Homo sapiens: one gene and its partners. Changing the gene in region 1 together with any one later gene gives a genetic interaction. Each region holds a gene or a part of one and is shown in the gene's direction. Other genes may lie near its edges. The genes, in order: NPRL3, ARL5A, HDAC8, TRAPPC13, MAN1B1, CHRAC1 and TRAPPC11.

The links.
Region 2: changes in NPRL3 (region 1) and ARL5A together harm fitness more than expected from each alone (negative genetic interaction), as found in Homo sapiens cells (one large-scale study listed by BioGRID).
Region 3: changes in NPRL3 (region 1) and HDAC8 together harm fitness more than expected from each alone (negative genetic interaction), as found in Homo sapiens cells (one large-scale study listed by BioGRID).
Region 4: changes in NPRL3 (region 1) and TRAPPC13 together harm fitness more than expected from each alone (negative genetic interaction), as found in Homo sapiens cells (one large-scale study listed by BioGRID).
Region 5: changes in NPRL3 (region 1) and MAN1B1 together harm fitness more than expected from each alone (negative genetic interaction), as found in Homo sapiens cells (one large-scale study listed by BioGRID).
Region 6: changes in NPRL3 (region 1) and CHRAC1 together harm fitness more than expected from each alone (negative genetic interaction), as found in Homo sapiens cells (one large-scale study listed by BioGRID).
Region 7: changes in NPRL3 (region 1) and TRAPPC11 together harm fitness less than expected from each alone (positive genetic interaction), as found in Homo sapiens cells (one large-scale study listed by BioGRID).

Annotation. Positions count from the first base shown.
Region 1 is NC_000016.10:89,842-93,918, reverse strand, and holds part of NPRL3 (GATOR1 complex protein NPRL3), read left to right. Parts: intron 1-593; coding exon 594-700; intron 701-1,193; coding exon 1,194-1,323; intron 1,324-4,016; coding exon 4,017-4,077. UniProt on the Homo sapiens protein: As a component of the GATOR1 complex functions as an inhibitor of the amino acid-sensing branch of the mTORC1 pathway.
Region 2 is NC_000002.12:151,825,209-151,830,043, reverse strand, and holds the start of ARL5A (ADP-ribosylation factor-like protein 5A), read left to right. Parts: upstream 1-1,622; 5' UTR 1,623-1,867; coding exon 1,868-1,913; intron 1,914-4,835. UniProt on the Homo sapiens protein: Lacks ADP-ribosylation enhancing activity.
Region 3 is NC_000023.11:72,565,852-72,569,928, reverse strand, and holds part of HDAC8 (histone deacetylase 8), read left to right. Parts: intron 1-1,044; coding exon 1,045-1,175; intron 1,176-1,898; coding exon 1,899-2,040; coding exon of another isoform or gene 2,041-2,044; exon of another isoform or gene 2,045-2,132; coding exon of another isoform or gene 2,133-2,172; exon of another isoform or gene 2,173-2,347; intron 2,348-4,077. UniProt on the Homo sapiens protein: Histone deacetylase that catalyzes the deacetylation of lysine residues on the N-terminal part of the core histones (H2A, H2B, H3 and H4).
Region 4 is NC_000005.10:65,631,047-65,635,123, forward strand, and holds part of TRAPPC13 (trafficking protein particle complex subunit 13), read left to right. Parts: intron 1-4,077.
Region 5 is NC_000009.12:137,100,340-137,104,416, forward strand, and holds part of MAN1B1 (endoplasmic reticulum mannosyl-oligosaccharide 1,2-alpha-mannosidase), read left to right. Parts: intron 1-665; coding exon 666-814; intron 815-1,144; coding exon 1,145-1,333; intron 1,334-1,339; exon of another isoform or gene 1,340-1,417; coding exon of another isoform or gene 1,418-4,026; exon of another isoform or gene 4,027-4,077. Other genes in the region: uncharacterized protein LOC124902313, read left to right, coding at 1,418-2,400, 2,437-3,871. UniProt on the Homo sapiens protein: Involved in glycoprotein quality control targeting of misfolded glycoproteins for degradation.
Region 6 is NC_000008.11:140,513,912-140,517,821, forward strand, and holds the end of CHRAC1 (chromatin accessibility complex protein 1), read left to right. Parts: intron 1-457; coding exon 458-584; intron 585-1,214; coding exon 1,215-1,336; 3' UTR 1,337-3,243; downstream 3,244-3,910. UniProt on the Homo sapiens protein: Forms a complex with DNA polymerase epsilon subunit POLE3 and binds naked DNA, which is then incorporated into chromatin, aided by the nucleosome remodeling activity of ISWI/SNF2H and ACF1.
Region 7 is NC_000004.12:183,661,876-183,665,952, forward strand, and holds part of TRAPPC11 (trafficking protein particle complex subunit 11), read left to right. Parts: intron 1-1,971; 5' UTR 1,972-1,992; coding exon 1,993-2,196; intron 2,197-4,077. UniProt on the Homo sapiens protein: Involved in endoplasmic reticulum to Golgi apparatus trafficking at a very early stage.

The DNA of each region.
Region 1 (4,077 bases):
AGGATGGGAAAACAGTGCCACCAAACAGCACAGGGAGCAGTGACAAAAAGGCCATTGTGGCCGGGTGCGGTGGCTCATGCCTGTAATCCCAGCACTTTGGAAGGCCAAGGTGGGTGGATCACGAGGTCAGATCGAGACCATCCTGGCCAACATGGTGAAACCCTGTCTCTACTAAAAATACAAAAATTAGCTGGGCGTGGTGGCATGTGCCTGTAATCCCAGCTACTCAGGAGGCTGAGGCAGGAGAATCGCTTGAACCTGGGAGGCAAGAGGTTGCAGTGAGCTGAGATTGTGCCACTGCACTCCAGCCTGGGCGACAGAGCAAGACTGTCTCCAAAAAAAAAAAAAAAAAAACCATTGCTCACAGAAAGTGCTGTGTGCTGGCTGTGCCCCACATCCTAGTGAGAGGTTGCGAAGGTGCTATTCCACGTTAGGGAGGAAGTCTCGGGCCATAGCCACCAGGTGTGTTCTGCATGAGGCTGGGGCCAGCTTCTCCAGGCTGGTAGGCCATGGCCACCCAGGCTGAGAGCTGCTGACAGCTCCCGGTGGGCCAGCCTCAGGCATGGTCCTTGCAGCTTCCCTTTTGCCTGCAGGTTTTCCAGCTTGCAGCTCATCTGGTGTACTGGGGCAAGGCCATCATCATCTACCCGCTGTGTGAGAACAACGTCTACATGCTGTCTCCCAATGCCAGCGTATGTCTGTGAGTGCTGCTGGCTGCCAGAGCCTGGAGCCCCGAGTGGGAAGGGGTGAGGCTGGCAGGGCCCTCCAGATGCTGTTCTCTGTGTTGGCCAGGCACCAAAGGCTGTGGAAGCCCCAAGGCCAGGCTCTCACTTCAGCCTAACTCCTGGCCACTAGCATACCCAGGTCCCAATTCTGGTCTGGCTCTGTGCTCTGTGGCTCTCCTGTGTCCCCCATATGCCTGGCCCCCTCCTCCAGGCTGGCTCTTCTAATCCACCTTGAGGGATCAGAGGTGAGATGCAGGATGAACTGTGCCCATGGCTCCTGCTGCTGCTCAAGGGGAAGTGCCCAGGCTCTGTCCACCTGGAGGCCTGCCTGGCCTCATACCGTTCTGCCCTCATCGCACTGTCCTGACCCACCTGCCACACTTTGCTTCTCTGCTGCCCACTGAGGCCAGTGTTGAGAACACGGTGGGGGGGTCTGCTGCACTCACTGGCATGCTCACCTGCCTGCAGGTACTCCCCGCTGGCCGAGCAGTTCTCCCACCAGTTCCCATCTCATGACCTGCCGTCCGTTCTTGCCAAGTTCTCCTTGCCGGTCTCCTTGTCAGAATTTAGGAATCCCCTGGCCCCCGCTGTGCAGGAGGTGAGTCACAGAAGCTCAAGGAGCCCAGAGTGGCAGGTGTGTAGTGGATAGGCACTACCTGCCTGGCTGTTGGTTCTGATCTGAGAGCCCTCAGCACTGCCACCTGCTTCTCCTTGGTTTTGGGGGCTTGCCGTGCAAGTGCTACGTGCCCAGCAGGACCCAAAAGTCAGCTGCCGGGCCACCTGCAGATGCTTGGCCAGTGACCCAACACTTGAGCAGTTGTTCCCTCCCCATAGAGCCCACCCTGGCTGTGGCAGGCAGTTTTTAGTGTTAGAACCGAGTTAAGCAGGAGAGTGCTTACCTTTTCTGGGCCTACAGACCTGCCTTGTACCCCTTTGGGACTGGGGACTGCCTACAGATGAGGGTGCAAAGGCAGTTTTGTTCTCACTGGGCCAGGCCTGACCCTCTGAGAGTTCTGCTTCTGTCTTCACTCCCTGCCATGGTTCAGGTGGCCACAGGGTCTGTGGGTATGAGTTCTGGGGTCACTGGTCCCCAGAATCTCCTCATTCAAGAGAGCCTAGAGAGGACCCTAGTGGGCCTGGATCAGGGCAACGGGCAGGCAGGTTGGGAGCTAGGAGTGGCTGGGGGATAGGAGGCCTCCTGCAGGTCTGTGGGATGAACTGGTGCACCTGCATCTGTGGCAGGGCCAGTGGCTTCCCCTGTGGGCTGCAGGTGTCATAGCCTTGTGCTGAGGTGGCTTTGCCATCCTCCCCTCCACTGAGTTCTGGGCAGAGACTCAGAGCAGGGCCAGATAGGATACGGTGTTGGAGACAGACGAGCTGGGTGTTCTCAAGTCTTTGTCTCCAGAAGTATCTGAGTAAGTGCCAGATCTATTAGGCAAAACCAGTCCTTAAAGTTAAACCCTTTCCGTTCTCAAATTACGAATGAGAACGATTCTGGCTTTTCAGCTCCGTTAGACGCTAAACCTGACAGAGCTCTCAGTGCGGTCTTTCACAGAGCCCTTGGTTTCTGGGAGCTGAGCCAGGTTGTACCAGCTGAATAAAAGGCACTCTCTGCACCCCTGCTCTTGGGGCAGTGCTTAGGGAGGAGCTGCTGGTGCTCCCTTCTCAGAGGCCTCCTGTGGTCTAGATAACGGAGTGGCTTTTCCAGGCCATGACTGAGTGGTTGCTCCAGGCCTTGTCAAGGGGCCTAGGTCAGCCAGGTTCTGCCTGGGCTCCAGTGCTGGGAAGCCCCTCTGTTTTATTTTTGGTTTATTGATTTTATTTAATTTTGATTGCACGTCAGGCTGGAGTGCAATGGCATGATCTCGGCTCACTGCAACCTTTGCCTCCCGGGTTCAAGCAATCTCCTGCCTCACCCTCCCGAGTAGCTGGGTTTACAGGTGCCCGCCACCACGCCTGGCTAATTTTTTGTATTTTTAGTAGAGACGGGGTTTCACCGTGTTGACCAGGGTGGTCTCTAACTCCTGACCTCAGGTGATCCACCCACCTCATCCTCTCAAAGTGCTGGGATTACAGGCATGAGCCACTACGCCCAGCTTTTTTTTTATTGTTTTGATATAGAAACTTGCTTTGTTGTCCAGGCTGAAGTACAGTGGCGTGATCTTGGCTCACTGCAACCTCCGCCTCCCAGGTTCAAGTGATTCTCCTGCCTCAGCCTCCCAAGTAGCTGGGATTACAGGTGTGTGCCACCACACCCGGCTAATTTTTGTATCTTTAGTAGAGATGAGGTTTCACTGTGTTGGCAAGGCTGGTCTCGAACTCCTGAGCTCAAGTGATCCACCCGCGTCTGTTTTATTTCTTAAATTCATGTGAAGTCTGGATATCTTGCAGTCCTTTTGACCAAGTCTTCTTACTTGCCTGGGATATATCCCCCATTCCCATCCCCAGTTCCCCAGCCCCCTCCCAGGAGGTGACCCTGGCCAGCAGCTCCTTGTTGACCCTCCCAGAGATGAGTAGACAGATGTGTATCTGAGGACACTGATGTGTCTCACACTCCTTACTGTTCAACGCCTGAGTCTGGGCAGTACTTTCTCATGGGGACTGGACTCTACCTGGCACAAGGCTCCTCACTGCTCCTCACTGCCAGCCCCACCTGCTAACCCAGAGACATTGGAGGGCCTGGCCAGGACGTGCCTTCTCACGGTGGGGGTGGGGGTGGGGTGCTCCACCCCCAAGCCCAGGGTCACTGGCCTCAGCTTTCTTGTGGATCCACTCTTGTGCTCAGGGTGGACTTTCAGGTAGATCCAAGGAGAGGACTTTCTGCTCTCAGGGTACCTGCCCACAGCCTCTTTTTAAACAGTGTCTGGGCTTGTGTGGAGGTGGACTTGCTGGCTGGGTCCAACTCCAGGGCCAGTGGGCCAAAGAAGAGAGGAGGCAGAGGGGCAGCTGCAGCAGCACAGGGTGGGGGGTTTGCTCAGCGAAGCAGTCACAGGGGCCTCCACGTCTCAGGTCCTGCTCCTCAGCCAGATGCTGGGTGGCCCCGGTGTGTGGTGGGAGCCTGTGCAGGTGTGATCCAGATGTTCCCCTGGCCCCTCTCCCTTCCCAGGAGGGTGAGCGGGCCTTGCAGAGCTGGCTGGCAGCTGGGGGCTCCCTTTCTGAGAAGAGGGCCTTTCTGCCTGTGCGTCAGCACAGGGAGCGTGCTGTGGCCATGTCTAGGGCCATGGCTCCCTGATCACCCAGGAGGAAGTTGGAGTGGGGAGGGGGACCAGCCTCACCTGCTGCCACCCGCAGACCCAGCTCATCCAGATGGTGGTGTGGATGCTGCAGCGCCGGCTTCTCATCCAGCTGCACA
Region 2 (4,835 bases), on another chromosome or scaffold:
GTTTCCAGAGCTTTTCTCTGTGTAGCTCCCTCCTTCCAGTTACTCTGCTTCACAAATTCTAGTCACCTTGATCTCTGGGAATGCTGATATGCGTCTTCAGTTCTAAGAGGTTTCCAGATTCTCATTTGGGTTCCCACTTCCTCCGTAGTTGACTGGGAATTGCTTTTAGGGATAAAGTCCAGGAAATGGTAAGACTCCACCTGTTCCTTTCTCTTTTGCAAAGAATCACAGTACTGTGATGTGTTTTTCAATATCTGAAATGTCGTTGCCTGTACTTTGTGCAGTTTTCTATTTGCTAATGGTAGGAGGATATATTCAAACCATCCTACTCTCTCATGCCTGAAGTCAGAAGTCTCTCCAATGACATTTTGCATTTCTCTGTAATCATAGATAAATTGGTCTTTAAACTCTCTGTCTCTGTCTCTCTCTCTCTCTTCTTTCTTCACTCGGAAAATAACCTGGGAGACCATTTCCTTGGGTAGATTGTAAAATATGAAGCTCCGCCATCACATAATGTGTATATGACATCCATTTCATAAGTTGACATCTGTGTGGGAGTCTGAAAAAGTCTTAGAGCTACCAAAGCATTACCTACGGTGTGCGAGAATGGAAATATTACAGAGTTAATGCAAATTGGTTATACAAACTACATTGTTCTTCTAAACAGTGTACAGAATATTAAGTAAATCCAGACATGATAATACATAAATTAATATGGATTACTATGATTTTCCTTCCCTTCATGTATGGCTCCTCTAAACTTTGGCTTTTTAACCATAAAGCCCCAAAAGAAGTCAACGAAATTACTTTTCTATATTTTGAGGTAAAATACTGGGTAGTTAGGAGAAGTGAGTTGGGAAGGTGCGGTTTATTGCTGATTTTGCTTAATTTCATTCAGCTGTTGGGGATGGGAGTGCAAAGCAGTTCAAATGGCTCCTACAAGTCTCCCAATTTTTCTTTATTTTCCTTTTTACTAAGGTTAACGAGAACAGAAAGGGATGGAGCTTTGGTGGCCACTAAAGGTTTTTAAACAGGGTAGTGACTTGATCAAAATCGTTGTTTTGGGCAATACTGACGTGAGAGTTAAGAGATTGGAGAGAAAAGAGCCCTGAAGTGCAAAAATGGCTTTAAGGTGACTATCTAGGTAAGGCCACTGACTTCAGCTGAGTGTCAGAGGGCAGCAGACTTTTCCCTCAAAGACCCACAGGGGACACAATGTCTTAAAGAGTCATGACGTGGAACTTTAAGTGTAGTGTATGTGAAGGGTTGGGGATGGACATGGGGTACTCAATTATATGTTTACATTATGGCGCAGTGGAGAAGATTCGAGGGAAATATAAATACTCGGGGACGCAACAGCAAGCAGTCGGAAGCCATCTGCCCCAACTTGCGGTCTTCACAGCCTCAGTCCCAGGGTAAAGTCCTGCGCCTTCCGCAGTCTTGGTTATGCAAATAAGCGAGGACAGGGCGGGCGCCCTTTCCTACGCTCCGCCCCTCTGGCCGCGCGCCTGCGCACTCACGTCCCTCCAGGCCCGCCCCTTCACTTCCCCCGCCCGCGTGGTCGTCGCCACCGCAGCCGCCCGAGAGGAGCTGGGGGAGGACGGTGGCCCGCGAGGCTCGTCGCAGACAACGCGGCGGCGATGTCCGCGAGCCAGGCGAGTGCCGCGGCGGCAGCGGCGGGGCCTTGCGCGCGGCAGGGCGGCCTGGGCTTCGGCCTCCCTCCGGTTCCCTGGAAGCGGGCCCGCGACCAGCGCGGGAGCAGCAGCAGAGGCGGAGGCTCCAGCGCGTCTCTCTCCTCCCCCTCAGCCTGAGCCGGGGGAAGCCAGGCGGCCCGGGTGTCTGGAGGGGGGGGGTCCGCTGCCCGAGAATGGGAATTCTCTTCACTAGAATATGGAGACTGTTCAATCACCAGGGTGAGGAGCTCGGTCCGCGGGCGTACGGGTTGGGGAGAGGGTCAGCTCGGGCCGGCTAGGTGGGGGTCTCCGAATACTTCGGAATGTGGGCGGCTCGGTCGGGCGCCAGCTCAGCGCGGGGTGCAGGCTGCGCGGATACGGGCCCGGGACGGTTCGGTCCCGGCTCCCGAGCTTGGGGATGGTTCCTGACTCGCAGCCCTTTGTCTTAGGAGACCTTCCTAAGAAGTCTTTTCCGTAATAGACCCATTGCTCCGATTTCGAATGAGAGTGGTAAAGGTTTCTTGCCCTAGGTCCGACGTCCCTGAGTAGCACGGCCTGGCCTGTCTTTCAGCCCTTTCTTTGCTCACCAGTTGTGTTTGGACACCACATAGAAGTGCTGGGGTCTTCTGGAATGAAGGTTATAGATTGCTGCCCTAACCGCACCACTGAGCGACCGAGGGTTGCAGAATGCGGAAAACGGGAGGAATCGCTCGACTTGTCCATTACACCTCTGGTTTATGAGCCTGCCCTCCACTGCCACCCGTCTTTGTGTGTGTTGGGGGCAGGGGGGGTTCTTCTGCCTCCTGAATAGAGATGGACTTCTCTCCATTTGTTTTACTTATTATATCTGTGTTTAAGGTTAAGCTTAAGGTCATTTTTCTACTCGTGTGGGTTATTAGACACAGTTTTTGTTTGTTTTGCTGGGTTAAAAATGTTAAAGTGTTTCACTGAAAGTTTTAAAAACATACCATATGAAACATTTGTTAACCATAGGTAACTAGCAAGTTACTAAGTGTAAAGTGTGTTATATAGGGATGCTTAAGTTCAGCCAACTTCAGACATGGCCATGAAATACCTATCAGGCTTGTTAAAATTTGTTACAAAATGACTAAAACTGGGGAAAGAGAATACAATTTTAACCCAAAGACTGGATACTTATTAAGATACAGTGGTGTACTTTTGTTTCTTTTTAACTCAAGTTGGGTGGTTCATCATTCCGCTGTCAGGAACTTAGTTTGTGTTTTTCTGTTGTGTAAGCTGATGGTGTCACGTCCCAGTTTTCCAATAAAGACTTACGTGAATGGTGGCATCTATTATGTACACCTACTACTACCACCTCCTCCTTCATGATCTAGCTGCTCTTTTAAGAAGCTTAGGGGAAGCAAGCAGAACTAGAACTTGTGATCCCTAATGTATCTTTTACGCACACACACACACACACAGATGTGTAGGTCACGTGATACCGAAAGAAAGGGCAGTATCAATTTTTCTGATAAGAGGATTTTTCATAAAGTAGAGAAAATCAGTTCTAATCAGCACTGTCTCTGACTGGACTGGCTGTTAGTGTTGGGAGCAGGAGAGTGGGAAGCAGTCACTTGAACTCTCAGGTTTTCTGGTCTAGGTTTTCTCACCTAGAACACCAGGGATCTGTGGAGCTTCCAAATCTTGTAAACTTTATTTCTACATTGCAAATATTAAAACGTACATTGCTGTAAGACTGATGGTACTTATAGTAGATAAGATCTATTCTAGTTTTAACATCCATCATTTTGTATTATTTTTAGCAAAGCTAGTGTTTCATCTGCTGTGAGGTTTAGCAAGACTGTGAATTGAGCTCTAGTGCTGCCAGAAAAAGAGTTATCACCACTTTCTATTTTGAGTCAATGATAAAATTATTTGTTTCTGTAAGTTAAGAATAAATGAGAACTTTGCCAACAGCTCCTTGGAGTAGTAAATAATAAGGGTGTGTGCTCTGGTATCACTACAAATTGCTAATAGTAGTGTTTTTATAACCTGTATTTTGTGGTAATTTTTGACGGGACATTTATGGCAGTTTGGCGGAAATTAATAGAGAAATTAATGAAGTTAAGTTCTAGAAAATTAGATATGAATATTGTGAAAGTGTGAATAAATTATTTATTTTCTGCTAAACAGTGTGGCTGTCTTATCAATAGGGTCACTTTTCCGAATATCCACCATTTAATCTAATGCCAGATATTTGTTGGGTTTTGTTTTTGTTTTTGTTTTTTTGAGATGGAGTCTTGCTCTGTCACCAGGCTGGAGTGCAGTGGTGTGATCTTGGCCCACTGCAACCTGTGCCTCCTGGGTTCAAGCGATTCTCCTGCCTCAGCCTCCCGAGTGGCTGGACTACAGGTGCGTGCCACCACACCCAGCTAATTTTTGTATTTTTTGTAGAGATGGGGTTTCACCACGTTGGCCAGAATGGTCACCATCTCTTGACTTCGTGATCCACCCGCCTTGGGCTCCCAAAGTGCTGGGATTACAGGCCTGAGCCATGGTGCCCAGCAGGGTTGTTTTTTTTTTTTTCTGTATAGGACATATATAAGTTAGATATGTGTTGGATGCTCTTGTTTTACCTTCAGTGGATTCAGAATGCAATCTTACTTTCTTTTCATAGAAACTCTTGGAAAGTATGTTTCGGGAGATTACAGAATTTGCCATCTGATGAAACTTAAACTATGCAGTATCTCCTGTTTCTGAAACCCCTCGAGAACAGCTTTTTCAGTTAAAGCTCAGATTGAGTGCACAGTGAAAGCTATTTGTATACCGCTCGAACTAGAAAAACCAGAGGTCACATTTAGTTGATACTGAGATTCAGTAGAGTACAAACTTTATCCTAGATGCTGTCATTTAAATCATTTTATTTTATTTTATTTTATGTTTTAACAATCTTTTGAAGTAGTTATTTCCCCTGAAAAGGGAAAACTGAGGCTTAAGTGGAATGATTTTTTTTCCCCAGGCCATGCAACTGGTATATGCCAGAGCCAGGCAAGTTAAAACCCTGAAGGAATCTCTTAAAGAAGAGATTGACATCATTTTTCCCTCCCTCCTCCTCCCCCCATTAACTTTTTCAGTTGCTAATCTCTAAGTTGTCTTTAGAACTTCGAAAAGTTGCCATTAGTAACTTTTTTTTATAGAAGA
Region 3 (4,077 bases), on another chromosome or scaffold:
ATGTGTCATCTTGTTTAAAAATCATCATGTTAAAATACAAATTCTGACTCAGGTCTGAGGCAAGTCTGAAGTTCTGCATTTCTAACAAGCACCCAGGGAATGCTGATGCTCCTGGTCTATGGACCACCCTTTAAGTGGCAAGGGCTAGAGAACAGTAGTGGCAGCTGTGGGGTCAAGAAGAGGAAATGGGGAATAGGCAGCTAGAGGTTAGATGTGGTAAGGCCTCTTATTGGGTTAGCTCCCTTTATTCCCTCACTCGCTTCTATTTGTCATTTTTCGTGAGGAGTAGGTTGAGAGGTTCTGAGTGAAGTCCGGTTCCAACCATTTTGCCCCTTCTCGCCTCGCTCTCAGAGGCAGATAGGAGGGTCCAAGTCTAGAAACATTACATTTTGGGTTGCCCATTTTTTATCTGTTAATAGAATGATAGTTATCCACCAAGCATTTTTGTATGTGTTATCCTTTTATCTTCACATAAGTCCCATAAAGTTCCCCATTTTACAAATAAGAAAACTGAACTACAGAACAGTTGACTTATCTGAGGTTATAGAGCTAGTAAGTACAGAATTAGGACAGGAACCCAATTCTCTGACTCCAAATCTGACTCCAAATTCAAAATGCATGATAACATAGCTGCCTATTAAAATAAAGATATAGCTGAAAGGATTAGATAGCCCAATTCGCAACTGGTTCAAATGAAAATATCCCTGCCTACTAGTTTGTCCTGAAAGTTGTAACTCACAGGGTAAAGTCTGTCTGATACCTGATTATTTGTTTAACTTGAATATAATTACTTTTGTTTACTTACCTATAAACTCAAGGGAAAATCTATCTTCTTGCCCCTTATTAATAGAGTCACTACTGTAGATGTGAGGCAGTGAAGACCGCACAGTGCAGTGGAAGAACAGAATATGTTTATTACTCCAGCCTATTGGAACCAGAAGTTGAGACGTATTTTCTTCTCAGACTGCTGGCTTCTGTTTCTAGCTTCTGGCATACGCTGGGTCTGACTCACTGACCTCTCTTTGTTCTCTCTGTTATTATTAGGATAGTTAAGCCTAAAGTGGCCTCCATGGAGGAGATGGCCACCTTCCACACTGATGCTTATCTGCAGCATCTCCAGAAGGTCAGCCAAGAGGGCGATGATGATCATCCGGACTCCATAGAATATGGGCTAGGTAAAGTCATTACCAGGCAGTGATGGGAGATGGACAGACTAATTTTTTTTATAACTTGTATGATTTTTTTAATATTTTTCGTTAAGAAATCATGTGTTAACTGTCAATCTTAATCTTTTGGTTTAGCCACATATAACTCACTAAACAAGCAAACCATATGAGTTGAGCAAAACCACATGAAGGGTTAGATGAAAGAAAACCTTTCAGTTGCTTATGCCCTACTGGCAGTGCTCAGATCTGGTCTGGCTGTGTATATGCTGATTTAGCTGTCCTGTGACCTTATATTTTAACTGGAGTACAGATTTATGTTCTGGCTAAGTTTTTGTACCTCACCCCTCATTAAACAGCTGCATTTTTTAAAACTGTAAGTGACCTGCAGGATAGTCTAGAAAAACAGCATGGTTTAGCAGAGGAACATTGAACTGGGGGGTCAACAGAGCTGGGTCCCAAGCCTGGCTCTGTGTGACCACTGACAAGACACATCACCTCTCAGGCTTGGTTTCTCTATCTGTAGCCTGTGACTAGTTCATCAGGAGGGTTTATCCTTTCTAGCTCTAACCTTTTAAAATATTATATCCCCAACATTGGAGTTGTTTCTGTCTCAGTTGGAGCTGATATTAGCACAGTGGCTTTTTAGTAGGTTAGGTTGTTGTCACACCTCAACCTATTCCTCCTCTTTTTCCAGTTCACCTTTTAACCAGCTCTTCTGATTTTTGCCCTAAGGTTATGACTGCCCAGCCACTGAAGGGATATTTGACTATGCAGCAGCTATAGGAGGGGCTACGATCACAGCTGCCCAATGCCTGATTGACGGAATGTGCAAAGTAGCAATTAACTGGTCTGGAGGGTGGCATCATGCAAAGAAGTAAGAAAATGACCTTTCTGTTTTCTGACTCTTTCCTTGAGTCAGTTTCTCAGTTATGTAAACTCTTATGCTTATTGTATTGACATTTACAGAGAGACGTGTGTGTATGTGGCACTTTACAAGGCATTCTGAAGAAATCCAAGTGAAATAGAAAAAAGATTACCTAATATAGTGGAAAGCACACTGCTCAAAGTCAGGACACCTGGGCTCTACACCTAGTTTTTCTAACTTGGCTAACTGACTTGGACTGATTACCCTCCCTAGGCCTCAGTTTCTTCATCAATAAAATGAACAAAGGATACAACTAGACAGTCTCTAAATTCCTTTTCGGCTTTCTAGAAATTCCCCTGTCTTCGAGGGACTTACAGTCTAGAAACATTAACAAAATTAGAATAGAGAACAACATTAGTTATGGTACCAATGGAATATATGTATGAGCTGAAGAGACTTATCAGTAGAAAGAAATTAATCATGGAAGTCTTGGCAGAAGTGAATTTTAGAGCTAGTTCTTAAAAGAAGTGGCAAACAGATTTTTAAAAAGGTGGAAAATTGACGCTAATAGGTTTAAAACAAAAGGCTGAAGAATCAAGAAGAGGGCTCATGCTCCTCTAATGAAAGTAGCAACCCAGAGGTAGATGTCTCTCAAAGACAAAGGGCTTGTGAAAAGGCTCTTCCTAGGTGCTTCTTGGAGTTAGAGGAGAAGTCCTTTGGAGTGTTTGTTTGTTTATTTGTTTGTTTGTTTTTGAGACAGAGTCTCGCCCTGTCGTTCAGGCTAGAGTGCAGTTGCGCGATCTCAGCTTACTGCAACCTCCTCCTTCCCAGTTCAAGTGATTCTCCTGCCTCAGCCTCCTGAGTAGCTGGAATTACAGGCACCCGCCATCATGCCCAGCTAATTTTTGTATTTTTGTAGAGACAGGGTTTCACCACGTTGGCCAGGCTGGTCTTAAACTCCTGACCTCAGGTGATCTGCCTGCCTTGGCCTCCCAAAGTGCTGGGATTACAGGGGTGAGCCACCGCGCCTGGCCACCTTCTAGAGTTTTATGTTAACATGTCAAACTGCAGTAGTCTGTCTGAGAAGGATTGCTGGGCCCTCCTTCAGCATTTGGGACTTTGTTTGATATTTCTGTAGTACTTAATCCACATTGAAGAAGAAGGATTTTTTAAACTCTGAATTTATCGATCCTCTGTCTGAGAGAAATGAAGCCACTGTGGTAGTAACTGCCAATGCCTCACTCAGGAATCAATTGTTCATGCAATCAACCGTGACCTTAGGTGCTCTTAGGTCAAGAGAAAACAACACTTTGTTTTTCAGAATAAAACACAGCACAACTTCAGCATATGCAGGTTAAGATAATAACAGAATTTTTTCCATCAAATTGACAGATTTTGTGGCCAAGGAAGTCCTTGAAAAAGTTTACTGCTAGAATTTACTAGTTGGGCAACACAGCAAAGGAAACCAATGTTTTAGTAATGAGTCTTACATGGTTTTAAAAACAGAGACAAGCTGCCTTTTGTTAGCTTTTGCTTGCTTGCCTGCTTGCTTTTTTCTTGCTTTGTTTGTTTGTTTGTTTGTTTTTTGTTTTTTGTTTTTTAATAAAGACAATGTCTCCCTATGTTGCCCAGGCTGATCTTGAACTCCTGGGCTCAAGGGATCCTCCATCCTCAGCCTCCCAAGGTGCTGGCATTACAGGTATGTGCCACCACACCTGGCCTCTTTCTTTCTTTCTTGTTTTGTTTTTTTCGAGACAGAGTCTCTCTCTGTCACCAAGGCTGGAGTGCAGTGGTGCAATCATAGCTCACTGCAGTCTCGAACTCCTGGGTTCAAGGGATCTGCCCACCTCAGCCTTCTAGGTAGCTAGGACTACAGGCACGTGCCACCATGCTTGGATAATTTTTGTATTTTTTGTAGAGATGAGGTCTTGCTATGTTGCCCAGGCTGGTCTCAAATTCCTGGCCTCAAGTGATCCTCCCACCTTGGCCTCCCAAAGTGCTGGCATTACACATGACAGCCACTGCACACCGCCTGCCTTTTTTTTA
Region 4 (4,077 bases), on another chromosome or scaffold:
ACAGTAAAAGTTTTGTAGAAGCATGTATGTTTGTTTAACATATTTAAATGCCTACTTTGCACTAGGTGCTAGGATATACTAGGGAAGGAGACAGACATGGACCTTGCCCTCACACAGCTTACATGTCATTACTACTATTAAACACACCAGCTCCCTAAGAAAAATAAGACTGCACTTAACTAGGAATATAGACATGTTTACCTTGAAGCTCAGTGCCTGTCATGGTAGGAGCTTGATAATGCATGGTAAACATTCCCTTCAGAGGGATTCTTCATAGCCTGAGATGGCTGAGGTTGCTTAAAATGGAAGCCCACTAATTTTTTTTTCTTTCTAACTTTTATTTTAGGTTCAAGGGGTACATGTGCAGATTTGTGATATGGGTAAATTGTGTGCCACAGGGGTTTGGTGTACAAATAGTTTTGTCACCCATGTAATCAGGATAATACCCAATAGGTAGTTTTTTAGTCCTCACCCCCTGCCACCTTCTACCCTCAAATAGGCCTCAGTGTCTATTGTTCTGTTTTTTGTGTCCATGTATACTCATTGTTTATCTCTCACTTATGAGAATATGTGGTATTTGATTTTCTGTTCCTGCATAAATTGGCTTAGGATAATGGCCTCCAGTTGCATCTACGTTGCTGCAAAGGCCATAATCTGAAAATATGAAGAAAAAAGTTGCTTTTAATACCAAGTTGGGATCACTTTATTTTTAATGGAGGATCATTTTTTACCCACCATCTCATCCCCTGCTAAACCACAGGAATCATGAAAAACTAAGCTTTATAGGACTTTTCTTTATAATAGAAATTGGAACCTATAATAAGCAAATATGTTAGCTACATGTTTGGGTGAACTCCAGGACACTAAGAAAAAAAAAAAAGGAATGTTTCAGGATTCCCTTGAGACTGTATTTTCTCTTTATTCAGATTTGTTTTCTAATGAAATGAAAAAAATAATAGGGAAGAAATAGAAAACACCAACTGGTACTAAAAGTGAACTTACCAGCCTGGGCAACATGGTGAAACTCCGTCTCTACAAAAACTACAAAAATTAACCGGGCATGGTGGCATGCGACAGTAGTCGCAGCCTCTTGGTGGGCGGGGGTAGGGGGTGGGTCTGAGGCAGGAGGTTCACTTGAGCTCAGGAGGTCAAGGCTGCAGTCAGCCATGATCGTGCCACTGTAGTCCAACCTGGGTAACAAAATGAGACCCTGTCTAGTGATTTTAGCTGTTTAAATTGGGAGAAACTGCCTCCTGTGTATCACTTTCAGGGCACCTTTTTATCTGTTTTCAGGGCACCTTTTTCTCTGTTTTCGTAGTTAAAAATAAGAGTGAAGGTTGGAAACGCCTCCCCATATTCATCTGTAGCTGATTAATACTCTTTGGAATACATTCCTACTTTGAATTCCCATGGGGTATTTCTGGTAAGGCATGACATTCCAGGTTTATGGCTCCAGGCTTATAATTAATAATTATTATAGAGAATTATTTTTCAACAGAGTGAAATCACCAGGGTTCAAATCTAGATTCTACCACTTATCTACTAATATAATCCTTTGTATGCAAATTACCCTCTGCAGGTATTGTCAATGCCCTATCTGTATATTGGGGTTAATGTAATACCAACTTAGAGAGTACTCATGAGAATTAAATGTGTTCAGCTTGTAAAATATTTAGCATAATGCCTGGCGCTAGTAAATGCTCAGTAAATGCTAGCTATACAGAGTAACTTCAGAAATTTTAAGGGTAGCATTTGTTGACTATTTCAAAAGCCAGCTGCTTAATATAGCAGGTTTTTAATTGCCTTCAGTTTCTGAAACTTACACTTTCAAAATAATGTCAGTTATTTAGGGACTTTCATGAAGTGCTAATTATTTTATTCAGGGAAGATCTGAATAGCAGAACTTACACCAAATATGGATGCTACAAAACTGAACGTAGTACATAAGAGCCTAGACCTCATGGAGTTTGGAAAGGAGTGCTATAAACAAATAAATATACTGCATGATAAATACAAGGTACCATGAGTGAAACAGAATGACCTGTTACTTTTTTTCTGAAAAAGATGACATTTAAGCTGAAACCAGAATGAGAAAGCCACTAAATTTGATATGAATGCCATAGTTGGTTAATTAGTAGTTGGGTGGTACATTTTTACATATGCTAGAACATTACTTATATTCTGAATTGACCATGTAGGTCTATAGTCTTTATAGTATTTTGGCTTTGATTTGAAGGAATTTTTTTTTTTTTGAGGCGGGGTCTTGCTCTGTTGCCCAGGCTGGAGTGCAGTGGGCGATCTCAGCTCACTGCAAGCTCCGCCTCCCGGGTTCACGCCATTCTCCTGCCTCAGCCTCTGCGAGTAGCTGGGACTACAGGCGCCCGCCACCATGCTAGGCTAATTTTTTTTATTTTTAGTAGAGACGGAGTTTCACCGTGGTCTCGATCTCCTGACCTCGTGATCCGCCCGCCTCGGCCTCCCAAAGTGCTGGGATTACAGGCATGAGCCACTGTGCCCAGCCAGATTTGAAGGAATACTTTTAATAATGAACTAGCCCTCTGTGATTCATTTTCTGAAAAATTTTACAAGTTTTTATGATTTTTTAATTTTATGTTTTTGTTTTTATTTTGATGTGGTCAAACGACAGTCTTTAGAAGTAACTGAAAAAGATTTTTAAAAAAATTATAGAGTGTTTACTCATTAGACTATAATAAATATTCAATTTCTTTTTTTTTACTTTTCTGTGGCTTAATTTTTGTCTATTTATATTTAAAGTGAATTTTTTAGTTAAATTTTATTTTCCCAGATAGCTAACCATGTCTTTGCACCTTATAATGAATAATCCTTTTGCTAATTGATTTTTTTAACTTCTAATCCTTTAATTGATTTTTTTTTGTCAAGAGGTTGTTTTTTAAAATATCTCTCCCAGCGTTTTTTTTTTTTTTTTTTTTTTTTTTGAGACGGAGTCTTGCTCTGTCGCCCAGGCTGGAGTACAGTGCCGCAATCTCGGCTCACTGCAACCTCCGCCTCCCGGCTTCATGCCATTCTCCTGCCTCAGCCTGCCGAGTAACTGGGACTACAGGCACCCGCCACCACGCCCAGCTAATTTTTTGTATTTTTAGTAGAGACGGGGTTTCACCGTGTTAGCCAGGATAGTCTCAATCTCTTGACCTCGTGATCCGCCCGCCTTGGCCTCCCAAAGTGCTGGGATTACAGGCGTGAGCCACCATGCCTGGCCACTCCCAGCAATTTCTTTATATAAGTATATCCTATCTTTTTTTTGAAAAACTAATATATCGGTATGGTCTTATATTAATAAGTCAATTAGTTGATTATGGACTTAAATATGTTATAATATGTAGTAAATTCAGTTCTTCCTCTTTTTTCTCCGTTAATTTCCTTAGCTTATTTTCATTTATTTGTTTCTCTAAATAAACTTTAGACACATTCTGTCATGTTCCAAAAATAATATCTTACTTTTGATTGGAATTATATAAACGTATATGTTTTCTGACATTTTTGTAATTTCTACACAGAATTAATATTACTTGAAGAAACACTTGGCCGGGCATGGTGGCTCATGCCTGTAATCCCAGCACTTTGGGAGGCCAAGGTAGGCAGATCACTCGAGGTCAGGAGTTAGGGACCAGCCTGGCCAACATGGTGAAACCCCGTCTCTACTAAAAATACAAAAAAAAAAAAAATAACCAGGCATGGTGGTGCATTCCTGTAATCCCAACTACTCAGGAGGCTGAGGCAGGAGAATCTCTTGAACCTGGGAGATAGAGGTTGCAGTGAGCCGAGATCGCACCACTACACTCCAGCCTGGGTGACAGAGTAAGCCTGTCTCAAAAAAAAAACAAAAAACACTTACTGAGTTTCCAAAGTTAATATTTTGTTGATATTGTTTATGGTGAAATCACTTAGAATTTTTTTAAAGCCTTATGCTCCTAATACTCTTTAAGCTTTAAAAATTATATTTTCCAGTTTTTCTATAATGAATGCATATTGTATTTACATTTAATTTTTATAATTCATAGGTTGTAAATAAATGGTGCTTATTTTGTAACATTACAA
Region 5 (4,077 bases), on another chromosome or scaffold:
TGTGTAATTTTTTTGGGTCGTAGCCTTTGGTTGTGACCCATTGGTGGCCATAGCAACTGCACTGCTGACTCCGTTTTATTAACAAATGTTGACGACTTCAAGATTTACCCCCTTGAGATAGGAGGTGATATTGAAGCCCTGCAGGGGAACGATAACGCCCCAGACATGGGTTTGGTTTTTTGTTTTTGTTTTTTTGTTTTTGAGATGGAGTCTTTCACTGTCTCCTGGGCTGGAGTGCAATGGCGCAATCTCGGCTCATTGCAACCTTGGCCTCCTGGTTTCAAACGTGGGTTTTTTGGAGACAGAGTCTAGTGGTGTGGCCCAGGCTGGAGTGCAGTGGCACGATCTCAGTTCACTGCAGCCTTCGCCTCCCGGGTTCAAGCTATTCTCATGCCTCACCCTCCCCAGTAGTTGGGACCACAGGCATGCGCCACCATACTCAGCTAATTTTTGTGTTTTTAGTAGAGATGGGGTTTTCCCATGTTGTCCAGGCTGGTCTCTAACTCCTGGGCTCAAGCAATCCACTTGCCTCAGCCTCCCAAAGTGCTGGGATTACAGGCATGAGCCACCACGCCCAGCCAAATGTATTTTGAAGATGGATAGATAATAGGAAAACGTTGGAGCCATCCATTTGTCTCTGCATCCTTTACTGTTTTATGTCATAGAATTTGAGGAAGCCAGGAAGTGGGTGTCGAAGAAGTTACACTTTGAAAAGGACGTGGACGTCAACCTGTTTGAGAGCACGATCCGCATCCTGGGGGGGCTCCTGAGTGCCTACCACCTGTCTGGGGACAGCCTCTTCCTGAGGAAAGCTGTAAGTGTCTTGGGGTGTCCTGCAGGGAGATGGTGGACTCGCATTCAAGCAGTTACCCCTTTAGTGGACTTGTGGGGACGTGACTGTCTTCCTGTTTCCTCTTCAAATGCACTGGAGTCTGTTTCTGAGCTCATATTCGTGAGCTGATGAAGCCACTTTGATCACCACTGGCCTTGTAGAGACATTCACTCAGTGCAGAGTGATGCCCGTTTCCTTGCTGCTGTGTTGACCCCAGAGAGCCTTCAGTGTCTCCACTGAACTGCATGAAAGGGTGTAGACGAGGCCTCTGGGTGACCTGAACGTTGGTTCTCTACTCTGCTCATATACCAGGAGGATTTTGGAAATCGGCTAATGCCTGCCTTCAGAACACCATCCAAGATTCCTTACTCGGATGTGAACATCGGTACTGGAGTTGCCCACCCGCCACGGTGGACCTCCGACAGCACTGTGGCCGAGGTGACCAGCATTCAGCTGGAGTTCCGGGAGCTCTCCCGTCTCACAGGGGATAAGAAGTTTCAGGTAAGGGGGCAGGCTTTCTGGCTGGATGCGCCTCCCCTGGAGCTACCTTTTGCTCATCACAGCAGGTACTGTGTGTGTGTGTGTATGTGCATGTGTGTTTTCAGGTTTTTTACTGTGATAAAACACACAAAACGCACCACCTTAACCATTTCCAGGCGTGGTCGGTGGTGTTACATTCACGCTGTTGCAGGCGTGCAGGTCGGTGGTGTTACACACATTCACACTGTTGCAGGCGTGCAGGTCGGTGGTGTTACACACATTTGGGCTGTTGCAGGCGTACAGGTCAGTGGTGTTACACACATGCTGTTGCAGGAGTACAGGTCGGTGGTGTTACACACATTCATGCTGTTGCAGGCGTGCAGGTTGGTGCTGTTACACACATGCTGTTGCAGGAGTACAGGTCGGTGGTGTTACATGCTGTTGCAGGCGTGCAGGTCGGTGGTGTTACATTCACGCTGTTGCAGGCGTGCAGGTCGGTGCTGTTACACACATTCCTGCTGTTGCAGGAGTACAGGTCGGTGGTGTTACACGTGCTGTTGCAGGTGTGCAGGTCGGTGGTGGTACACACATTCATGCTGTTGCAGGAGTATAGGTCGGTGGTGTTACACACATTCACTGTTGCAGGCGTGCAGGTCGGTGGTGTTACACATTCACGCTGTTGCAGGCGTGCAGGTCGGTGGTGTTACATTCACGCTGTTGCAGACGTGCAGGTCAGTGCTGTTACACACGCTGTTGCAGGCGTGCAGGTTGGTGGTGTTACATTCACACTGTTGCAGGCGTGCAGGTCGGTGGTGTTACACACATTCATTCTGTTGCAGGCGTGCAGGTCAGTGTTACACACATTCACGCTGTTGCAGGCGTGCAGGTCGGTGGTGTTACACACATTCACGCTGTTGCAGATGTGCAGGTCGGTGCTGTTACATTCACGCTGTTGCAAGCGTGCAGGTCGGTGGTGTTACATTCACGCTGTTGCTGGCGTGCAGGTCGGTGGTGTTACACACATTCACACTGTTGCAGACATGCAGGTCGGTGCTGTTACACACATTCATGCTGTTGCAGGCGTGCAGGTCGGTGGTGTTACATTCACACTTGCAGGCGTGCAGGTCGGTGGTGTTACACACATTCATGCTGTTGCAGGCGTGCAGGTCGGTGGTGTTACACACATTCACACTGTTGCAGGCGTGCAGGTCGGTGGTGTTACATTCATGCTGTTGCAGGCGTGCAGGTCAGTGGTGTTACACACATTCACGCTGTTGCAGGCATGCAGGTCGGTGGTGTTACACACATTCACGCTTTTGCAGGCGTGCAGGTCGGTGGTCTTACATTCATACTGTTGCAGGCGTGCAGGTCGGTGGTGTTACATTCACACTGTTGCAGGCGTGCAGGTTGGTGTTACACACATTCACACTTGCAGGCGTGCAGGTCGGTGGTGTTACACACATGCTGTTGCAGGCGTGCAGGTCGGTGGTGTTACATTCACACTGTTGCAGGCGTGCAGGTCGGTGGTACACACATTCACACTGTTGCAGGCGTGCAGGTCGGTGGTGTTACACACATTCATGGTGTTGCAGGCGTGCAGGTCGGTGTTACACACATGCTGTTGCAGGCGTGCAGGTCGGTGGTACATTCATGCTGTTGCAGGCGTGCAGGTCGGTGGTGTTACACATTTTCACGCTGTTGCAGACGTGCAGGTCAGTGGTGTTACATTCATGCTGTTGCAGGCGTGCAGGTCGGTGGTGTTACATTCACGCTGGTGCAGGCATGCAGGTCGGTGGTGTTACACACAACGCTGTTGCAGGCGTGCAGGTCAGTGGTACACACATTCACGCTATTGCAGGCGTGCAGGCCGGTGGTGTTACATTCACGCTGTTGCAGGCGTGCAGGTTGGTGTTACACACATTCACACTTGCAGGCGTGCGGGTCGGTGGTGTTACACACATTCATGCTGTTGCAGGCGTGCAGGTCGGTGTTACACACATTCACACTTGCAGGCGTGCAGGTCGGTGGTGTTACACACATTCACACTGTTGCAGGCGTGCAGGTCCGTGGTGTTACACACATGCTGTTGCAGGCGTGCAGGTCGGTGGTGTTACATTCACACTGTTGCAGGTGTGCAGGTTGGTGTTACACACATTCACACTGTTGCAGGCTTGCAGGTCGGTGGTGTTACACACATTCACACTTGCAGGCGTGCAGGTCAGTGGTGTTACACACATTCATGCTGTTGCAGGCATGCAGGTCGGTAGTGTTACACATTCATGCTGTTGCAGGCGTGCAGGTCGGTGGTGTTGCACATTCATGCTGTTGCAGGCATGCAGGTCGGTGGTGTTACATTCACGCTGTTGCAGGAGTACAGGTCAGTGGTGTTACACACATTCATGCTGTTGTGCAGCTATCACTTCCATCTCCAGAGCCCTTTTCATCTTAAAACTGAAGCTCTCCCATCACACAGTGACCCTTCATGTCCCTCCCCAGTCCCTGAAAAACACTGTTCAGGTTTTTCTTCCTGGACCTCATTGTGTGGAGTTCCTCGTGTGAGTGCAGTCACACACGATTTGTCCTTTTTTTGTTTTCGTTTGTTGAGACAGAGTCTCATTCTGTCACTCAGGCTGGAGTGCAGTGGCGTGATCTCAGCTCACTGCAACCTCCACTCCCAGGTTCAAGTGATTCTCCTGCCTCAGCCTCCCAAGTAGCTGGGATTACAGGCGCCTGCCACCACGCCCAGCTAATTTTTGTGTTTTTAT
Region 6 (3,910 bases), on another chromosome or scaffold:
TCTTTTTTTTTTTTTTTTTTTTTTTTTGAGACGGAGTCTTGCTTGATCACCCAGGCCAGAGTGCTGCAATCTCCAACCTCCACCTCCCAGGTTCAGGCGATTCGCCTGCCTCAGCCTCCCGCTGGCTGGGATTACAGGCACCCGCCACCATGCCCAGCTAATTTTTGTATTTTTAATAGAGATGGGGTTTCACTATGTTGGCCAGTCTGGTCTCAAACTCCTGACCTCAAGTGAGCCGCCTGCCTCAGCCTCCCAAAGTGTTAGTATTACCAGCGTGAGCCACCACGCCTGGCCTCCCCAGTGATTTCTTGTAATTTAATTTGAGAAACCAAGAGAATCTGAAGTCTTAATATACTTTTAAGCCTAATTAAGGAATCAACAATGTAATTTTAAAAATTAATTTCTGTGGTACATTTTCAAAGCACACCTTTCATTTGCATTTTTCATTTTGTTCTAGGAGCTCTTTGTTCAATGCCTAGCCACCTATTCCTACAGACACGGCAGTGGAAAGGAAAAGAAAGTACTGACTTACAGTGATTTAGCAAACACTGCACAGCAATCAGAAACTTTTCAGTTTCTTGCAGGTACTTAGTCTTTGAAACATTCTGGTTAAAAAATGATTAGTAATCAATAGCTCTTTCCCCACCCCTTGCCTCCCTTCTGCTCTCACGGAAAATTAGACTTTTTGCTACTTTTTCCAAGCCGCAAAGTACTATGAGTTGTCACAGGAAGATACTTTTAGTCTTCTCTGTTTGAATGTGTTTGTCATGTGGTCCACCTAGAACAATAGTGAAGCCAACAACATTCACAAGATGTTGGTTGGCCGCGTATGCTGGGCAGTCCTTTACTCTCTACAGGGACCCTGCCTGCCACTGAAGGGAAAACTCAGGGTGGGTCTACATGGCCGTAGTTAGAGCTTAAGTCTACCCTGGGGCTAGCCTAGGCTATCTCAGGTAGTCGGGCAGGGTTGCTCATAAAAGCAGCTCATAGAGACACCATGGTTTGTACTCATTGGACTGGAAAGAGGCCTATAGCGTTCGTTAGGAGACAATGCTAGTTTCTTTGATATTTTACCCAGAAATGCAGCCTGAATTTCATCTTGTTTTGGAACCTCTTATAGAGGTCAAAGCAGGAACTAGTACATTTTGAAATGTGCATTGCTGTGTTCATAGTCTACCATAACCAATTGCTGATGTACGCTTTATGTTTTTAAGATATATTACCAAAGAAGATTTTAGCTAGTAAATACCTGAAAATGCTTAAAGAGGAAAAGAGGGAAGAAGATGAGGAGAATGACAATGATAATGAAAGTGACCATGATGAAGCTGACTCCTAAACCAAAAGTGCTTTAAAAACCAGCCTGGCGAGGACAGCCCTGGACCCACTCCACTGTCTCTAAGTAAACACAGCACTGCCCGCTTTTAGCGTCTTCACTTCTTCACAGAGTTCCAGTGTGTGGTATTCTTTCGAGGTATTCTTTCCAGGCCGAGATTGAGCACCTCATGTACCTACGCCACAGACAGCCAGAGGGAAAGCGACCCAGACAGCAGCCCCTCCTCGACAGGCCCACCCTGCAGCTCAGGCACCAAGAAAACAGCCGATACTGGCAGCCATTGCAGCTCCAAACTGCAGAGGCAAGGCCAATTTTAACTTTTCAATTTACAGTCGATTTTGAAGAGCTTCTACATATCGGTTATGTAAATTCATATATGTATATTTTGGAATCAGTTCTTATAAACAGCTCGATTCAGTTTTAGCTAAATTTATAGTTTAGGTAGTATGTTACATTTGAATTTTTGTCTTAAGAAAAGTTGACTGTTCAGATATTTTTCTACTGTAAAGAAATATACTTTTCTATTAAAGATCTGTACATATTTTTACAGTAAAATGCTTTATGGAACTAGTTTTAGAGCCCTCTATGGCTTTAAGGCCTTGCTTACTGCCTGCAAATTTTGAGAAATTTAAAAATAAGCATTCTAACACTTTTATTCCCACAGAAAAATTCCAAGTCAAATTATCAAATCAAATACAAAAATAAGTCTTACCTCTTGTATAAGCATGTTGTACTAAAAAAAAATTTTGAAACATTTTGTATATTGGAGATCTCTCTCATCTTACTGTTCTTTGCTTTAAATTCCTGGCACTTCTTTTTACTGTCTATAAGAGAAAACCTATCATAAGCCCAATTTTTTTTTTCCACTTAGGGTAAATGTTTGGCTCCTCTCATTTCATTATCTTTTTTTTTTTTTTTTTAAAGACAGATTCTCACTCAGTTGCCCAGGCTGGATTGCGGTGGCGCTGTCTCAGCTCACTGCAACCTCCGCCTCCCAGGTTCAAGTGATTCTCCTGCCTCATCCTCCTGAGTAGCTGGGATTACAGGCGTGTGCCACCATGCCCAACCTATTTTTGTATTTTTTAGTAGAGACGGGGTTCACCATGTTGGCCAGGCTTGTCTCAAACTCCTAACCTCAACTGATCCACCTGCCTCAGCCTCCCAAAGTGCCGCCGGGATTACAGGCGTGAGCCACCATGCCTGGCCTTCATTATCTCTTTTTTAAAAATGAAAAAGTTTATAATTTACATTCAGTAAAATCACCCTTTTTAGTGTCTAGTCTGTGAATTTTGACAAATGCATGGTTTTGTAACCAATCGATAGGACAGTTCTGCCACCCAGGACATTCCCCTCTGTTCCTCTGTTCCTCTCTTCTCCTGCCCCCTAGCAACCACTGGTGTTTTCTGTCCCTCTTGTTCATTGACATTTATTTTAAAATAAAATATTTTAAAATCTACTTTTTGGTGTACAGTTCTGAGTTTTGGCAAATGCAGTCAAGTCACTACCACCACCACAATTAACAGCTATATCACCCTCCAGTAAATTCCCTGTGGTCAGCTCCTTCCCCACCTTTTACCGTGGCAACCGTCAAGCTATTCTCTGTCCCTATACCAGGTGTCATCAAATTTTTTTCTGGAAAGGGCCATGCAGTAAATAGTTCAAGCTTTGTGGGCTTTTATAGTCTCTGTTGCTGCTGCTGAACTCAGCTGTTGTAGCACGAAAGCAGCCAGGTAATTACTAGATGAAGGAATGCAGGTGGCTGTGTTTCAATAGAGCTTTATTTCTGCAAACTGAAACTTGAGTTTTGTGTAATTTTCATGTGTCATGAAATACTGTTTTCTCCAACCATTTAATAATGTAAATACTTGCTAGCTTATGTGCCATTAAAAAATGACTTGATTTGGCTTACAGACCAGTTTGGTGGCCTGTCTTTTCCAGAATGTCATATAAATGGAATCATTCAGTATGTAGCATTTGAGTCTGCAGTTGTTCTGTTTAGCAGAATGCATTTGAGATTCATCCGTGTTGTCACAGGTATCAGCAGTCCATTCCTTTATATTGCTGAGTAGGATTCCATTGTATGGATGTATCTGTTTATCCATTTTCCAGGTATATGGATAATTACCCATTTAGATTGTTTCTAGTTTTGATGATTGTAATTTTTTTTTTTTTTTTTTTTGACAGGGTCTCACTCTGTCACCCAGGCTGGAGTGCAGTGGCATGATCATGGCTTACTGCAACTTCCGCCTCCTGGGTTCAAGCGATTCTTGGGTCTCAGCCTCCTGAGTAGCTGGGATTACGGGCACGGCGTCACCACACTTGGCTCATTTTTTTGTACTTTTAGTAGAGATGGGGTTTCACCATGTTGGCCAGGCTGGTCTCGAACTCCCGACATCAAATGATCCGCCCACCTCGGCCTCCCAGTGATGGGATTATAGGCATAAGCCACCACACCTGGCCTTGATGACTATAATTAATAAAGCCCTATAAGTATTTGTGTACAGGGTTTTTGTTTGTGTTTTTTGAGATGGAGTCTCGCAAACTCTGCTGCCCAGGGCGGTGTGCAGTGGCGCAGTC
Region 7 (4,077 bases), on another chromosome or scaffold:
CTCAGCCTCCCAAGTGGCTGGGACTACAAGTGAGCACCACCATGCCCGGCTATTTTCTTTTTTATTTCTTTTAGAGACAGGATCTCACTATGTTTCCCAGGCCAGTCTTGAACTCCTGGCCTCAACAATCCTCTGGCCTTGTCCTCCAAAAGTGCTGGGATTATAGGCATGAGCCACTTGTGCCTTACCTGAATTCTCTGTAATATGCTGGTATAGATTATCTTTTAAAAGAACCTCATTTGGGAGGCCAAGGCTGGCAATCGCCTGAGGTCACGAGATCAAGACCATCCTGGCCAACATGGTGAAACCCTGTCCACTAAAATACAAAAAATTAGCTGGGTGTGGTGGTGCATGCCTGTAGTCCCAGCTACTAGGGAGGCTGAGGCAGGGGAATCACTTGAACCCGGGAGGTGGAGGTTGTAGTGAGCTGATATTGGGCCAGTGCACTCCAGCCTGGTGACAGAGTGATACTCCGTCTCAAAAAAAAAAAAAAAAAAGAACCTCATGTTGTTACATCCTTTTGCAAGTAAGATTATATTAAAAATATAATGACAGTCTTGTTCGGGATAAACATAGTTTTATATACTTATAAAGTCAGGGCATACGTTAGATTTATTATGGACTGATTCTTAGCTAAAGGACGCAGTGGAAACATCCTCCGAGAGGTTTCCATTCATTGTTAGTTTTTCCCTTACAGATTTTTCTTTAAAGAGTAAATTTTATATTGTGGGAAATGAGACAACATAGCTACTATTTAGATAATTACATAAATTAAAGGCTATTTTAATAATATCCTAGGTATTCAGAAATTCAATATTAGCAATTACAGAGAAATTAGGGGAAGTTTATTATATGTAAGTCAACTGTTTTTCTTTTATATTTTTCTTTCAATATATTTTTCTTTTATAGTTGAAATAGATCATGTAGATCTATTTTAATTTTATCACCTTCTTGCTTTCTTGGTCTACTAATTTCAAAGTTCTGTGTGCATTTTGAGACATTACTGAAAATGCCGATTTGTCTTAAAGTTGACTTCATTTTTAACATGAAAGATTTTTTCTTAAATGTCATATAGTTATTACATTTTAATAGATCTAATTCAGGAATTAAAGTTTTCCCTTTTTCTCTCTTCTGTTTGTTTGACAGTTTGCAGATACTCAAAGCCTTTTGCCTTTTTGTAATGATTATTTTATTTATTTTATTTTTTTTGAGACAGAGTCTCACTCTGTCACCCAGATTGGAGTGGAGTGCCGTGATCTTGGCTCACTGGAGCCTCCGCCTCCTGGGTTCAAGTGATTCTCCTGCCTCAGCCTCCAAGTAGTTGGGGTTACAGGTGTGTGCCACCATGTCCAGCTAATTTTTTGTTTTTTGTTTTTGAGACAGAGTCTCCCTCTGTCATCCAGGCTAGAGTGCAGTGGCGCCATCTTGGCTCACTGCAACCTCCACCTCCCGGGTTCACGCCATTCTCCTGCCTCAGCCTCCTGAGTAGCTGGGACTACAGGCGCCCACCACCACGCCCGGCTAATTTTTTGGATATTTAGTAGAGACAGGGTTTCACCGTGTTAGCCAGGATGGTCTCGATCTCCTGACCTCGTGATCTGCCCACCTAGGCCTCCCAAAGTGCTGGGATTACAGGCGTGAGTCACCACGACCAACCAATTTTTTGTATTTTTAGTAGAGACAAGGTTTCACTGTGTTGGCTAGGCTGGTCTTTAACTCCTGGCCTCCAGTGATCCACCTGCTTCGGCCTCCCAAAGTGTTGGGATTGTATGCGTGAGCCACCATGCCTGGCCTTGTAATGATTATTTTTTTGTAATGATTTTTAAATAGAGATTCATATATTGGAAATGAATATGAGTTGTTTTTTTTTTTTTTTTTTTGAGACAGAGTTTTGCTCTTGTTGCCCAGGCTGGAGAAATGAATATGAGTTTTTAAAAATTAATTATGAATGTATTAACATTTGTATTTCAGGTTTTTTGTGACATCGTAAACATGAGCCCCACACAGTGGGACTTCCCTGTGGAATTATGTTGCCGGCCTATGGCCTTTGTTACTCTAACGGGCCTGGATGTAGTTTATAATGCAGTCCATCGAGCTGTCTGGGACGCCTTCTGTGCAAATCGGAGAGCTGATCGAGTACCAATTTCTTTCAAGGTGCTCCCAGGTGACCATGAGTATCCCAAATGTAGACCCAAGGTAATGGCATTGTGATGGCATGTGTTCTTTCCTTCTCTCTCTCTATGTGTGTGTGTGTGTCTTTTTTGTTCTGTTGTGTGTGTGGAGTTTATCAAGACAGTGGTCACAGTGGTGCATAAAGAAAGCCTTAGGCATTTTCATGTAATACACTGCATGTATATTTAATAATAGTTCTTTTTTTTTAAACTCCAGAGGAATAATTACTTTATAAAGCTTTCTATCCTATGAGCCCAGGTTTTCCCTTTTTTGTTTTTAGGAAAAAACCCAACATAGTCCCCTCTAAAAGGAAGGTCTTGCATTCCCCACCATCATTACTAATGTCGTTTTTGAATCCCATGGTCTGTGCAATGTGGCTCAATTTCACAGATTTTTTGAGCACTTGCTTTGTGATAGGTACCTGGAACCATGCAACAAGCTAGTGATACGAATTTAAGTGAGACAGGTTCCCTATTCTTGAGGAGTTTTACATAAACTAACACAGTTTATTCATTGCGGAATGAAGAAAGGTATTAAGTTCAAAACTGACTTTTAAGGTGAACGACATAGTAAAGACGACTTTACCTTAGATAATAATTATTATCATGATGATAGTATCACTAATAGCTAACATAGTTGTAAAAAAACAGTAAAACAGTTTACTGTTTTAAGCAGTTTATGTGTAGTGATTTGTTATTTATCATAATCTTATGAGGTTGGTTTGAAAGTTAGGTGATAAAACCCTTTTAGTTCTGACCCCTATCCTTTTTTTTTCTTTTGCCCTAGAGCAGTGTCTCTGACATAGTAGTCTCTGGACCAAGTATGTCATCATAACCTGGGGTATTTATTAAAAATGTAGATTGCAGCCCTCCTCTTTGGTTTCTGGGAATATAGGACTTGGTCACCGGCTGATTATTTTTGTGTGTGTTTGAGAACCACACGACAACATTTCATATACTCAGCCCTGGAAACTGAGCTCTCTGAAATTGTGCAAGTAATAGCATCCCAGCCCTGGCCCTCACACGATTATTTTTCTTTTCTTTCTTTTTTTTTTTTTTTTTTTTTGAGACGGAGTCTCGCTCTGTCCCCGAGGCTGGAGTGCTGTGGCGCGATATCGGCTCACTGCAAGCTCCGCCTCCTGGGTTCGTGCCATTCTCCTGCTTCAGCCTCCCGAGTGGCTGGGACTACAGGCGCCCGCCACCACGTCCAGCTAATTTTCTGTATTTTTAGTAGAGACGGGGTTTCACCGTGTTAGCCAGGATGGTCTCGATCTCCTGACCTCGTGATCTGCCCACCTTGGCCTCCCAAAGTGCTGGGATTACAGGCGTGAGCCACCGTGCCAGGCCTACATGATTATTTTTCTTTAGTGTCATGTTTGTGTCAAGAAGGCAGGGAGCCCAGCACAAGCCCTCTTTTCTCTTAATGCTCGAATTCAAGCTGCTTTTCATTTCTCTATTCCCAGCTTTTGGCTGAGTCCCCATGTTATTTTGTGTCAGACTTCCTTATTGACCTCATCTTTCCTTGCTGGAGGTAGACATTGGATCACCATGAAGTGGAGTAGTCTGAGCCAGCACAGCTGATTTGGAAGGAATGTGAGGTTTCAACTGCATCCCTCAGGGCTAACACTCAAATCTACAGCATCCTCTTCCCACTCTGTGGCACTCAGTGCCCAGACTCAAGTGGCTGCTGTGAAGCTTCTGTTTAAGAATTGTTCTCTGCTTTGTACTTCATCTACAAGTGAGGTGAAATGCATCACAGCAATATGTCTTTGAAATAAACAAAGCCTATTGGATTTTAGATAATATTTTATTTGAGCAGTTTTACAAGAACAGAAGCTGGAATGGTGAAGAATATAAGTAGAATTTACCTGGAAATGGGCTACTTTTTTTTTTTTTTTTTTCTTTA